Homo sapiens: one gene and its partners. The protein of the gene in region 1 purifies or fractionates together with the protein of each later gene. This does not show direct contact. Each region holds a gene or a part of one and is shown in the gene's direction. Other genes may lie near its edges. The genes, in order: ZYG11B, IFT46 and TCP10L.

Region 1 (3,652 bases):
AAGCAGGTAGAGAACTTCATCGCTGCTTGATGAGTGTTGAAGTTCAGGCTCCCCAGAAGGTATCTACTAACATCGTGGTGGGGGATAGTTCTTACTACCCAGCAGGAATGAAAGTCCTTGCTCTCTACTCAGACTTCTCTAACACCTCCCCTGTGGGCAGATTGGGGCAAGTAATTACAGCCTGGCAGGGGTAGAAATCTAGGCCCCTATTGGCATTTGCTGGCATGGGTGGAGCTGCAGTTTTTTCTGTCGTGTTTGGCTGAAGTAGAGCAGTTACTGTCTACTAGCTGTTTCCTGTCTTACTAGTTGCTGCTTTCCTGGTACGTTGGCTAGAGAGAGCAGATTTTGGGGGAGGTTTTTGTCTGTGCCCATTGGTGTTTCCAGGCTGCTGGCTCCTTCAACTTTAGATCTGGGATATATGACCAGAAAAAAACCAGGAACTTTTCTGCGTTGTTCCATGGGTCCCAAGGTCCCCCCTAGCTGATCTGCTTTCATCTCTTCACCTTTCAGAGTGATCTAGCTCCAGCTCACCTTCAGCCTCATTTCTTCTGTCCCATTTGCATGCTTATATCCCCAGAAATGCACTGCATCTATGGCTCTAGCTATTTCTTATGTTCAAGCAATATAGAAAGAACTACTTGCCATTTCCTAACCCCGTGATATGCTTTCACATCTTTAAGACTTTGCTTATGTTGTATATTCTTGCTTTAATATACCTAACCTTCTTCCTCTTTTTTTTTTTTTTTTGAAATGGAGTCTTGCTCTGACGCCCAGGCTGGAGTGCAGTGGCGCCATCTCGGCTCACTGCAGCCTCCGCCTCCCAAGTTCGAGTGATTCTCTGCCTCAACCTCCCAAGTAGCTGGTATTACAGGCGCGCACCACCACACCCATTTAATTTTTGCATTTTTAGTAGAAACGCGGTTTTGCCACGTTGGCCAGGCTGGTCTCGAATTCCTGGCCTCAGGTGATCCATCCGCCTCGGCCTCCCAAAATGCTGGCATTATAGGCATGAGCCACTGCACCTGGCCTACTAACCTCCTTTCTCTATCTTTGAATTCTTCCAGCATTTTCAAAGGCCTTACTCAAAGATCACCTCTCCCATCAAATCTTTTCCAGATCTTCATTCATGATGGTTTACTTCCTTTTCTTTGTTTTTGTGATACTTTATACTTGACATTGATATACCATATATCTCATTTTGTTATGGCTGTTTGTGTCTTTTTTACTCCATGGGATTATGAATCCTTTGACTATAGGGGCATATCTTATTTTTCTTTGTATCTACAACATTTAGAGTACTTGACATATAGTAATTGTTTAATAAACTGTTTGCTGAATGGACCCCATCATGAAATTTACTCTCCTGAAATAGAGTGCAGGTAATTTGAAAGGCTGTCTCTAGAACTACATTGTTTAATCGAAATGTAATTTTAAATTTACCGGTGGCCACATAAAAAAATAAAAAGAAAAACAAGTGCAACGAGTTTTAATAATTTTTATTTAACCCAATATATTAAAAAATGATCATTTCAACCTGTAGTATATATAAAAAATTGAGATACTTTACATTATTTTGTTGTATTAAGTCTTCACAATCTGGTGTATATTTTGTACTTTATAGCTGACCTCACTTTGTACCACCTGCTTTCCAAGTGCTCTCCAGCTGTGTGGAGCTAGTGACTATGTATTGGGCAGCACAGCTCTAAAATGTAATGGAGTTCTTAATATGTAATTAGTCATTTTTGTCCACTTTGGCAGGTTTTGCACAGGCCTTTCTTGATTTTAACTGTGTAACTGTAATTAAGTCTGCAAAACTCATTAGAGAATAGTGCTCCCTTTTAAAAACACCTCATTTCTAATTTAAGGGTGACTGGCTGGCAGCCTAGCTGCATTTTGAGTATGGGCCAGCTAAGATGCCGCCTTAGAGTTCCTCTCATGACTTCAGGCTATTTATTTACCTGTCCTCAACTGCTCATTCACCCCATACTATTCTTAGACTACCTGTTTTTGGCATGATTGTTACTTCTTTCACAGTCAATGTTGTTTAGTTGATATGTGATATGTTGATGTGCCTCCAGAGTATCATATGCTTGTGACACTGTTGATTGGTAGACAGGTAGATCTCGAAGGCACTTCAAGAGGTTACTGTGTCGACTTCATTTACATTCATCTGCAGGAGGGGGAGTGTGGGGGGAAGCTGTAACTACTATATATATATATATATATATTTTTTTTTTTTTTTCAGAGACAGGTTCTCACTCTGTCACCCAGGCTGGTGTGCAATGGTGCAATCATAATTCACTATAACCACAAACTCCTGGGCTCAAATGATCCTTCCATCTCAGCCTCCCTAGTAGCTAGGACTATAGGCATGACCACTGTGCCCAACTCGTTTTCAGTTATTTTGCAGAGATGGGGTCTTGCTATGTTTCCCAGGCCTAGATCGCTTTAATAAGGTTTGAGATCTGGCTAGTGGTTTATTAATGAATTACAAGGCATTAAGTGCATGCTAAATATATTATGTGTATATGTGTTTGTATAATAATATGTTAAGGTGAATTTAAAGGATAGGCTAGAAATGTATTGGTAACAAATCAAATACCTTAACACAAGGTTTATACCTCACTTGTGGTACATAAACTCTGCAAGTCCATAGAGGATTCTGCTTCATGGTCACCCTAGGGTCCAAACTGATGGAGGGTTTCTCCTCATATAACTATACTCTCTAGAACGTGAAGTCTCCTCGTTTGTCATAGCAGGAAAAGACAGCATGGAAAATCATGCACTGGCTCTCAGGTGCTTCAACATATAGTGCATTGGCCAGAACTAGGCACATGGCTCCAGCTAACTCCAGGGATGGGCTGGGAAATGTAGTTGTCTGGTAAGGTAAGAACTAGATGTTAGTGGATATCAATAATGTCTGCCACAGTCCTGATTCTGCCACTTGCTAGCCCTGTGATCTTGGAAAGCCACTCTCTGAGCCCCAGTTTACTCATCTACAAGTTGTAAACAATAATAATCTCACCTAAATGAATTGTGATTATCAGACGAGATACTGTTACATGGGAGCGCTTTGGAAATGTAAAGTGTGATGGAAATTTTGGCTATTCTTTAACTGTTTTTTGAATTTAAAACGCTGCTTGTTTTTCCACAGGTCTATTGAATGATGGAACTGTGGGTATTTTTAGGGGCAACCAGATGCGCTTAAAGCGAGCCTGCATTCGCAAAGCAAAGATCTCTGCTGTTGCTTTCCGGAAAGCTTTCTGCCACCACAAGTTAGTGGAACTTGATGCCACAGGTGTGAATGCTGATATCACGATTACAGACATTATCAGTGGGCTTGGCAGTAACAAATGGATCCAGCAGAATCTCCAGTGCCTGGTGCTGAATTCATTAACTCTCTCCCTCGAGGATCCTTACGAGCGCTGCTTCAGCCGGCTTTCTGGCCTTCGAGCTTTAAGCATCACGAATGTTCTCTTTTACAATGAAGACCTGGCTGAAGTTGCCTCATTGCCAAGATTAGAGAGCTTGGATATTTCTAACACCTCAATCACAGACATCACTGCTCTACTGGCCTGCAAAGACCGACTCAAGTCTCTAACCATGCACCACTTGAAATGTTTAAAAATGACAACTACCCAGATACTGGATG
Region 2 (3,652 bases), on another chromosome or scaffold:
AGAATCTCAAAAGTAAAAGCCTGGGAATTTATATTTTTTAGGAAGCAGTCCAGGTAATTTTATGCTAAAGCGAGTTTGAAATTATCAGTCTAGGCATTTTTTCATTGTCAATACTTGTGATACTGCCAGTATTTTGTGAAGGAGATTTTAATTTTGAGGTCTTAAGACCCAGATGTTGGCTGCTGTTATTCTGTGTACCTAGAGAATCACCCTGCTTCTGAAAGAAACATGGCAAGAGGCCCACCTCTCTAGAAACATATAGGACCTTAGAGTTGCACATATGATTTCTTAAAAACCGTTTATGTTGGCCGGGTGTGGTGGCGCACTCCTGTAATCCCAGCACTTTGGGAGGCCGAGGCGGGCGGATCACCTGAGGTCAGGAGTTTGAGACCAGACTGTCCAACATGGCGAAACCCCATCTCTAATAAAAATACAAAAAATTAGCTGGGCGTGGTGGCGGGTGCCTGTAATCCCAGCTACTTGGGAGGCCTCCCAAGGTGCTGGGATTACAGGCACAAGCCACTGTGCCCAGCCTGTTTTTTTTGTTTGTTTTTTTTTTTTGAGACAGAGTCTTGCTCTTTCACCCAGGCTGGAGTGCAGTGATCTTGACTCACTGCAACCTCTGCCTCTTGGGTTCAAGCAATTCTCATGCCTCAGCCTCCCGAGTAGCTGGGGGATCACAGGCCTGCACCAACTCGCCTGGCTAATTTTTGTATTTTTAGTAGAGATGGGGTTTTGCCATGTTGGCCACACTGGTCTTGAACTCCTGACCTCAGGTGATCCTCCTGCCTTGGCCTTCCAAAGTGCTGGGATTACAGGTGTGAGCCACTGTACCCAGCCTGATGGCTGCATTTTAATGGTTTTTGTTTTTGTTTTGAGACAGAGTCATCTCGCTCTGTTGCCTAAGCTGGAGTGTAGTGGCATGACCTCAGCTCGCTGCAACCTCCGCCTCCAGGGTTCAAGCAATTCTCCTGCCTCAGCCTCCTGAGTAGCTGGGATTACAGGCGTGCGCCACCACGCCTGGCTAATTTTTGTATTTTTGGTAGAGATGGGGTTTCACCATGTTGGTCAGGCTGGTCTCGAACTCCTGACCACATGATCCGCCTGCTTCGGTCTCCCAAAGTGCTGGGATTACAGGCATGAGCCACCACCCCGGGCTGACAATATTCTTAAAAGTTCCCTCTGCCAAAACTGCTTCCTATGTGACTAAGGATAATTTTGGCAAATCTTGAATTGAGAAAGAATGCTCTAGAAAGTTCTTATCAGTCATATACTAATAAGGCATAGTCACTGAATAAATTCTGCAACTGTGTTTCATTATCTGCCATGCATATTACAGCTTAGTTAGAATATACTTTATGTATAATAAATTTGTTATTCTTAGAGCAAAATGTGACTAAAAGCAGTTTTTGGTGTCCTGTAACGTGTCACAATTTTGTGTGCCAATAGCTGCTTTACCATAAAAACAAATTAATTTTAAACAACTGGAATCAAACGTGTTAACCTCAGTATAAGCCATACGGTATATAGAAACCAAGTTTTGAAAACCTACTTTTAAAGGGGGCCAATTGGTCATCCTTCAGGTCCTAAGGGAGGGCATGCCACAGGCTCCAGGCCACAGAGGCAAAGACATGGACCCTGTTCCACCTGCCCCTGCAAGTCTCAAGTGCCACCAGACCCCTTCTCATGTACTTGAGAGGGTGGGATGGTACAGAGAGAGCCAGAAGCACAGAAAGGTAGGTTATAATGTCAAGAACAAAAGAGCTGTTTATCTTGAGAGAGAATGTGTAGTCATTTTATGTAATTTATGGGGTAAGGGAAGGGAAATACAGATAGGTCAGATACTCCATGAAGAGAAATATCACTGAACAAAAATGGAAAGTCCATAGTCCCTGGGACTGCTGGTTTGATGGGCACAAGGTTGATTTTGAACTTTCTTCTTTTGATAGTTTCAAGCAGCTTATGCTGGGCAGTCTTGCAAATTAAGTATTAGATTTCCTCTCTATGGTCTTTGTGAGTATTAAGACCCCTAAAATTTCTATTCCCACTTCATATTCCCTGATTTTCTTCCAAAATAACTAGAGTTGCCATCCTCTTCTTTGAAAGTCCATAGCTTTTCGGGCCGAAGCTGTCTAAAGTGTACACAGGGCCCTGAAGATCTAAGTAATATGTACAATAGATAAAATTAGAATTTATACCCCAGCCTCAAGTAGAGAAATGGAATAGGGTTCTAGAAAGTGGAGTCCCCATTTGTAGCTGAGCAGGGGCAGAAGAAGGCTCTCAAGCCCCTTCTGGGAAGTGCCCCCTTCTCTTTCTGGTGACGAGGTGCCAGGTGGTTGGTGTATTGGTTAGAGCAATAGAGAACTGGGCATAGGTACATTTGATTTTTTTACTTGAAGCTTTCTATGCCTGCCCTGCCCTATCACAGGAGAAGAAGAAGACCTCACAGTTGACACCTCAACGGGGCTTTAGTGAAAATGAGGATGACGATGATGATGATGATGATTCATCTGAAACTGATTCTGATTCTGATGATGATGATGAAGAGCATGGAGCCCCTCTGGAAGGGTGAGGAAAGAACACCCAAGCCAAGGGTGCTCTTCAGAATACCTCCTTCAAAACACTGGAGTGGGAGGACGTCAGTTAGAAGTGAAATTCCAGCATCTCTTTTGATCTCCTGTATTTAGGATTTTCAGATGTCTCAGAAACCCAACATAATAATGAGTTTTCCTCCCTTTCTGACTCCACTACCTTATCCAGTCCTATAGTATCACTTTACTATCTGAAACGTTTGTGGGCTTGGGGGTTACATGAGATTTTGCTGAGTAAATCAAAAAGGTGGTGGCCAGGCATGGTGGCTCAAGCCTGTAATCCTAGCATTTTGGGAGGCTGAGGTAGGAGGATTGCTTAAGGCTGGGCGTTCAAGACCAACCTGGGCAACATAGCAAGACCTCGTCTCTACAAAATTTTATTTTTTTTTTGAGACAGAGTCTTGCTCTATCGCCCAGGCTGGAGTGCAGTGGCGTGATCTCGGCTCACTGCAAGCTCCGCCTCCTGGGTTCACGCCATTCTCCTGCCTCAGCCTCCTGAGTAGCTGGGACTACAGGTGCCCGCCACCACGCCCAGCTAATTTTTTTTGTATTTTTAATAGAGACGAGGTTTCACCGTGTTAGCCAGGATGGTCTCGATCTCCTGACCTCGTGATCCGCTCGCCTCGGCCTCCCAAAGTGCTGGGATTACAGGCGTGAGCCACTGCACCCGGCCGCCCAAAAATTTTTTAAAAATTAGCTGAGCATGCTGGTGTGTGCCCATAGTCCCGGCTGCTCGGGAGGCTGAGGCAGGAGAATCACTTGAGCTCAGGAGTTTGAGACTGCAATGAGCTATGATCGGGTCACTGCACTCCAACCTGGTCAACAGAGTGAGACCCTGTCTCAAAAATAAATTAATTAAATTTAAAAAATAATAATAACACTGCTAAAAACACTTCTATAATTTTTTTTTTCTGGTGCAAACTATTTTCATGTCAGATATTTAAATCTCTTTTTTTTTTTGAGACAGAGTCTTGCTTTGTCACCCAGGCTGGAGTGCAGTGGTGCGATCTTGGCTCACTGCAACCTCTGCCTTCCAGGTTCAAGTGATTCTTCTGCCTCAG
Region 3 (3,652 bases), on another chromosome or scaffold:
TCCTCCGTTAACACACTCCCGGTTGAAGACACAGGAGCCTAAAGGAAGATATGTTGGGGATTGTTTGTTCTGTAGCCTTTGGGATCCTGTGATCATTTTGAAACAAGGAACCACAATAAGAAACACAAAGCAAACATCGGCTCCACAAAGGTTCCTTCACAAACGCTTGGTGAGGGTTTCTGTTCTTATCAACATATTAGGGGGAAAACCCAGTCCAAGTCCCCCTACCTTGTACCCTATTTTTTTCTAGGACATTCCAATTATTCTTCATTGTATTAAAATTTGAATTTATTTTACCTTCGAAAATGTGAAGAATTTCCCTGCATTTTGTCTTTTAGGCATTGGAACCTGCTTTTGGAAAAATTTCACCTCTGTCAGCTGATGAAGAGACAATACCCAAATACGCTGGCCACAAGAATCAGAGTGCCACTCTCCTGGGACAAAGATCGTCATCTAACAATTCAGCTCCTCCAAAGGTGACCCTTTGTGCTTATCATCTGTAAAGAGAAGCAGAGGTTCTGTACCCAAACACACACATCCCATCAGCTCCTCACCACACAATTTCACCTCCCTGGGTGAGCATGGTGCTCCCTGGAGTCCTGTGTTCTTCCAAGGACACGGGTACATGCCTTTCAAACAAGATCCTAACCCTTAGCACTTCTTGCTGTGGAGCAGATTCCAAGTCCTCCCGGCTGCTTCCCTCTGAGTACACTCACAGCAGCAAGCGTCTGGCTGGGGCCGAGGGGACTTGGGGGCTTTGTTTCCGTGGGTGCAGGCTGCGGAGGTGATGTGTGTGGCACTGTCTCCACCCGTGAGTCTGAGGGCTCGCAGCCTCCCGTGCTCCCTGCTTCTGCACTGCGGTCTTGCACCTGCTGCTTGTCGGCGTGGACTCCTCTGAACAGGGGTGGCGCTGTTAGCTTGGGAGCCACAGTACAGGATGCTATTTTGTCTCTTGTTGGGAATAGGCCCCCAGATCTGGCCATAAACTGGCCCCAAAACTGGCCACAAACAAAATCTCTGCAGCACTGTGACATGTTCGTGATGGCCATGATGCCCACGCTGAAGGTTGTGGGTTTACCAGAATGATGGCAAGGAACACCTGGCCCACCCAGGGTGGAAAACCGCTTAAAGGCGTTCTTAAACCACAAACAGTAGCATGAGCGATCTGTGCCTTAAGGACATGTTTCTGCTGTGGATATCTAGCCAGAGCCCATCCCTTTGTTTTGGCCCATCCCTTTGTTTCCCATAAGGAATACTTTTAGTTAATCTATAATCTATAGAAACAATTTATCACTGGCTTGCTGTCAATAAATATGTGGGTAAATCTCTGTTCACGGCTCTCAGCTCTGAAGGCTGTGAGTGCCCTGATTTCCCACTCCACATGCTATACTTCCGTGCGTATGTCTTTAATTCCTCTAGCACTGCTGGGTTAGGGTCTTCCTGACCGAGCTGGTCTCGGCAGTCTCTATCACATTTTTCTTTGTTAAAATTAGCTCCTCTTTAGAACATTCTCCCAGCCAGTGTGTCTCTTCCTGTCCCAGCTTTGTGTCACCCTCATACTCAGGAAGCAAATCTCGTGAGTCCACAGCCAGCAACTGATACTGGGTTGATGTGGATGGAGAAGGCGCCCCCAACTCCTGAAGATGATTTATCCCCTCGCATTCTTTCCCAAAGCAACTGCTGAGCAGATAACACTTTATTCCCTGAAGGAAGATCAGAAATCTACTCCAAGCATTTGTCACAAGTAGGAAAAGAGCCTTTTCAGATCCTATGAGTACAAAACATCGTAAGTCCCAGGGTGGACTGCACAGGCCCAGCCTCCTGTGAGACGCGGACTTCTCTCATGCTCCATCATTGACCTGAGTTAATCACAGGCATGCGGGGCAATGTACGAGTAAATAGATAACTGAATGGGTGGCTTATCCACGCCTTGAAACCATCAATTGTTAAATAGTGCAAAATGTAGAAAATTATTTTTATTATGCATTTTTGAATTGAGTTTCAAGCACTTTATTTCACTGTTGACTTTACAATATCAGCCATGTATTGGAATCCCAAATTTCACAAGAGCGTGGGCTGTAAAATGGGGAATGAGAGACACTAAGTGTGGATACCTCATGTGTCCTTCTGTAGGAAGGGGGAGTAGAATCATCTACATTCTGTGATAGCTGGTATGATGTGTTGCTTAACATTTAAAAATAATATAATTGTTACTAATGCAAAAATATTCCCACATTTGTTTTCAGCCAATGAGTTTAAAGATAGAAAGAATTAGCTCGTGGAAAACACCACCACAGGAAAATAGAGATAAAAATCTTTCCAGGAGACGTCAAGACAGAAGAGCAACACCTACTGGAAGGCCAACTCCCTGTGCAGAGAGACGGGGGGGTGTCTGAAGATGGAAAGGTGGCCTCGGACACCTGTGTCACTCTACACTGGCCCCTTGGAAAATTCAGATTCAGATAAAGTTCCACTTAGGTCTAATAAAAGTACTCAATTTGTTATTCAAAATAGACCTAGTAATTTATTAAACTAATTATGTTTCTATAGATAAAAACTTGAAGTTCTTCAGACATGTCTCTAATGCTATAAAAGCAAACAACTTGGATTGGGTTTTATAAATCAGTTGCTTTCCTGAGCTCTGTAGTTGGTATATTTCTGCAGAGTCTTTAAAAAAATTAACCCACCTTGTAGTATGGAGTGTCGGGCTGTTGGGTGAGCCCTGGGGTCTTGCTGGAAATCGAGGATGGCTGAAGATGGCTTTGTGCTCCCAGCCTTTGGGCTCAAGGCATTGCCCGCTCCAGGGACCTTGTGACAAGGCGGGCCTGTGACTGTCATTGCCCCAGGCTATGCATCCATCTTCCCGAAGTCTGCAAAACTTGAGTGGCAGAAAATCACCAGTGCAGGCTTCCCAGGCCGCCATGCTGCAGGAGCAGATGGCAGCAGCCGGAGGAGCTGGTGAGCAGAGTTGGGGACTCCTGTTTCTATGCTCCCCGTGAAATGCGGGGCTTTCTCGTGGATACGCGTGAGCAGAACATCTTACTATGGCAAGGACATGTCCTTCCTGGAGCTGCCTAATTTGTGGCCACTTTTTGTCTGATTCCCTCGTTGGGTCCTCACCTGTGAGACTTGCCAACACCCCCAGCCCTCCACCCCACACACAGCCCACATGCCGGTCTCCAGGGGCCGTGACTGGAGATTCCGAATCCTAGCGGTCACTTCCCTCTGAGCACACTCCCAGCAGAAGGCGTGTGGCTGGGGCTAGATGCACTTGGGTGCTTTGTTCCCCTTTCTCCATTTGCCAGCCCATGGCATTGCTGCCACCCTGATGGAGCGCCCTCTCATCTGGCACCTTCCTGGCCTCTTTCCCAGGCCCCAGTTCTGTCCATGCAGCTGTGGGTGCTTCCTGCATTGCGGGTCTCACGGGGAGGAGACGAGAGTGCCCCTGGTTGAGTCAGGAAAGAATTCTATCTTCACGTCGCTGCCAGCAAATGACCACAGCAGCTTCACGACCTCTGCAGGAACCTATCTTGGTAAAGAAACGGGGCCTATGTGGTGGCCGAGCCTCAGGTGTGGCCGAGCTTCAGGTGTGGCCCTTATGCACAGCACAGCCCAAGCCTGTGGGCACCACTCGCCCTGGGCTGCCTGGCAC

What was found.
Region 2: the proteins of ZYG11B (region 1) and IFT46 purify together in Homo sapiens (affinity purification with western blotting; one study listed by BioGRID). This does not show direct contact.
Region 3: the proteins of ZYG11B (region 1) and TCP10L purify together in Homo sapiens (co-immunoprecipitation; one large-scale study listed by IntAct). This does not show direct contact.

The regions. Positions count from the first base shown.
Region 1 is NC_000001.11:52,767,866-52,771,517, forward strand, and holds part of ZYG11B (protein zyg-11 homolog B), read left to right. Parts: intron 1-3,154; coding exon 3,155-3,652. UniProt on the Homo sapiens protein: Serves as substrate adapter subunit in the E3 ubiquitin ligase complex ZYG11B-CUL2-Elongin BC. Acts to target substrates bearing N-terminal degrons for proteasomal degradation with the first four residues of substrates being the key recognition elements.
Region 2 is NC_000011.10:118,555,822-118,559,473, reverse strand, and holds part of IFT46 (intraflagellar transport protein 46 homolog), read left to right. Parts: intron 1-1,583; coding exon of another isoform or gene 1,584-1,736; intron 1,737-2,428; coding exon 2,429-2,568; intron 2,569-3,652. UniProt on the Homo sapiens protein: Forms part of a complex involved in intraflagellar transport (IFT), the bi-directional movement of particles required for the assembly, maintenance and functioning of primary cilia. May play a role in chondrocyte maturation and skeletogenesis.
Region 3 is NC_000021.9:32,575,518-32,579,169, reverse strand, and holds part of TCP10L (T-complex protein 10A homolog 1), read left to right. Parts: intron 1-338; coding exon 339-476; intron 477-2,246; coding exon 2,247-2,396; 3' UTR 2,397-3,652. Other genes in the region: CFAP298-TCP10L (uncharacterized protein LOC110091775), read left to right, coding at 339-476, 2,247-2,396. UniProt on the Homo sapiens protein: May be involved in transcriptional regulation. Has in vitro transcription inhibition activity. Acts as a tumor suppressor in hepatocellular carcinoma (HCC) cells.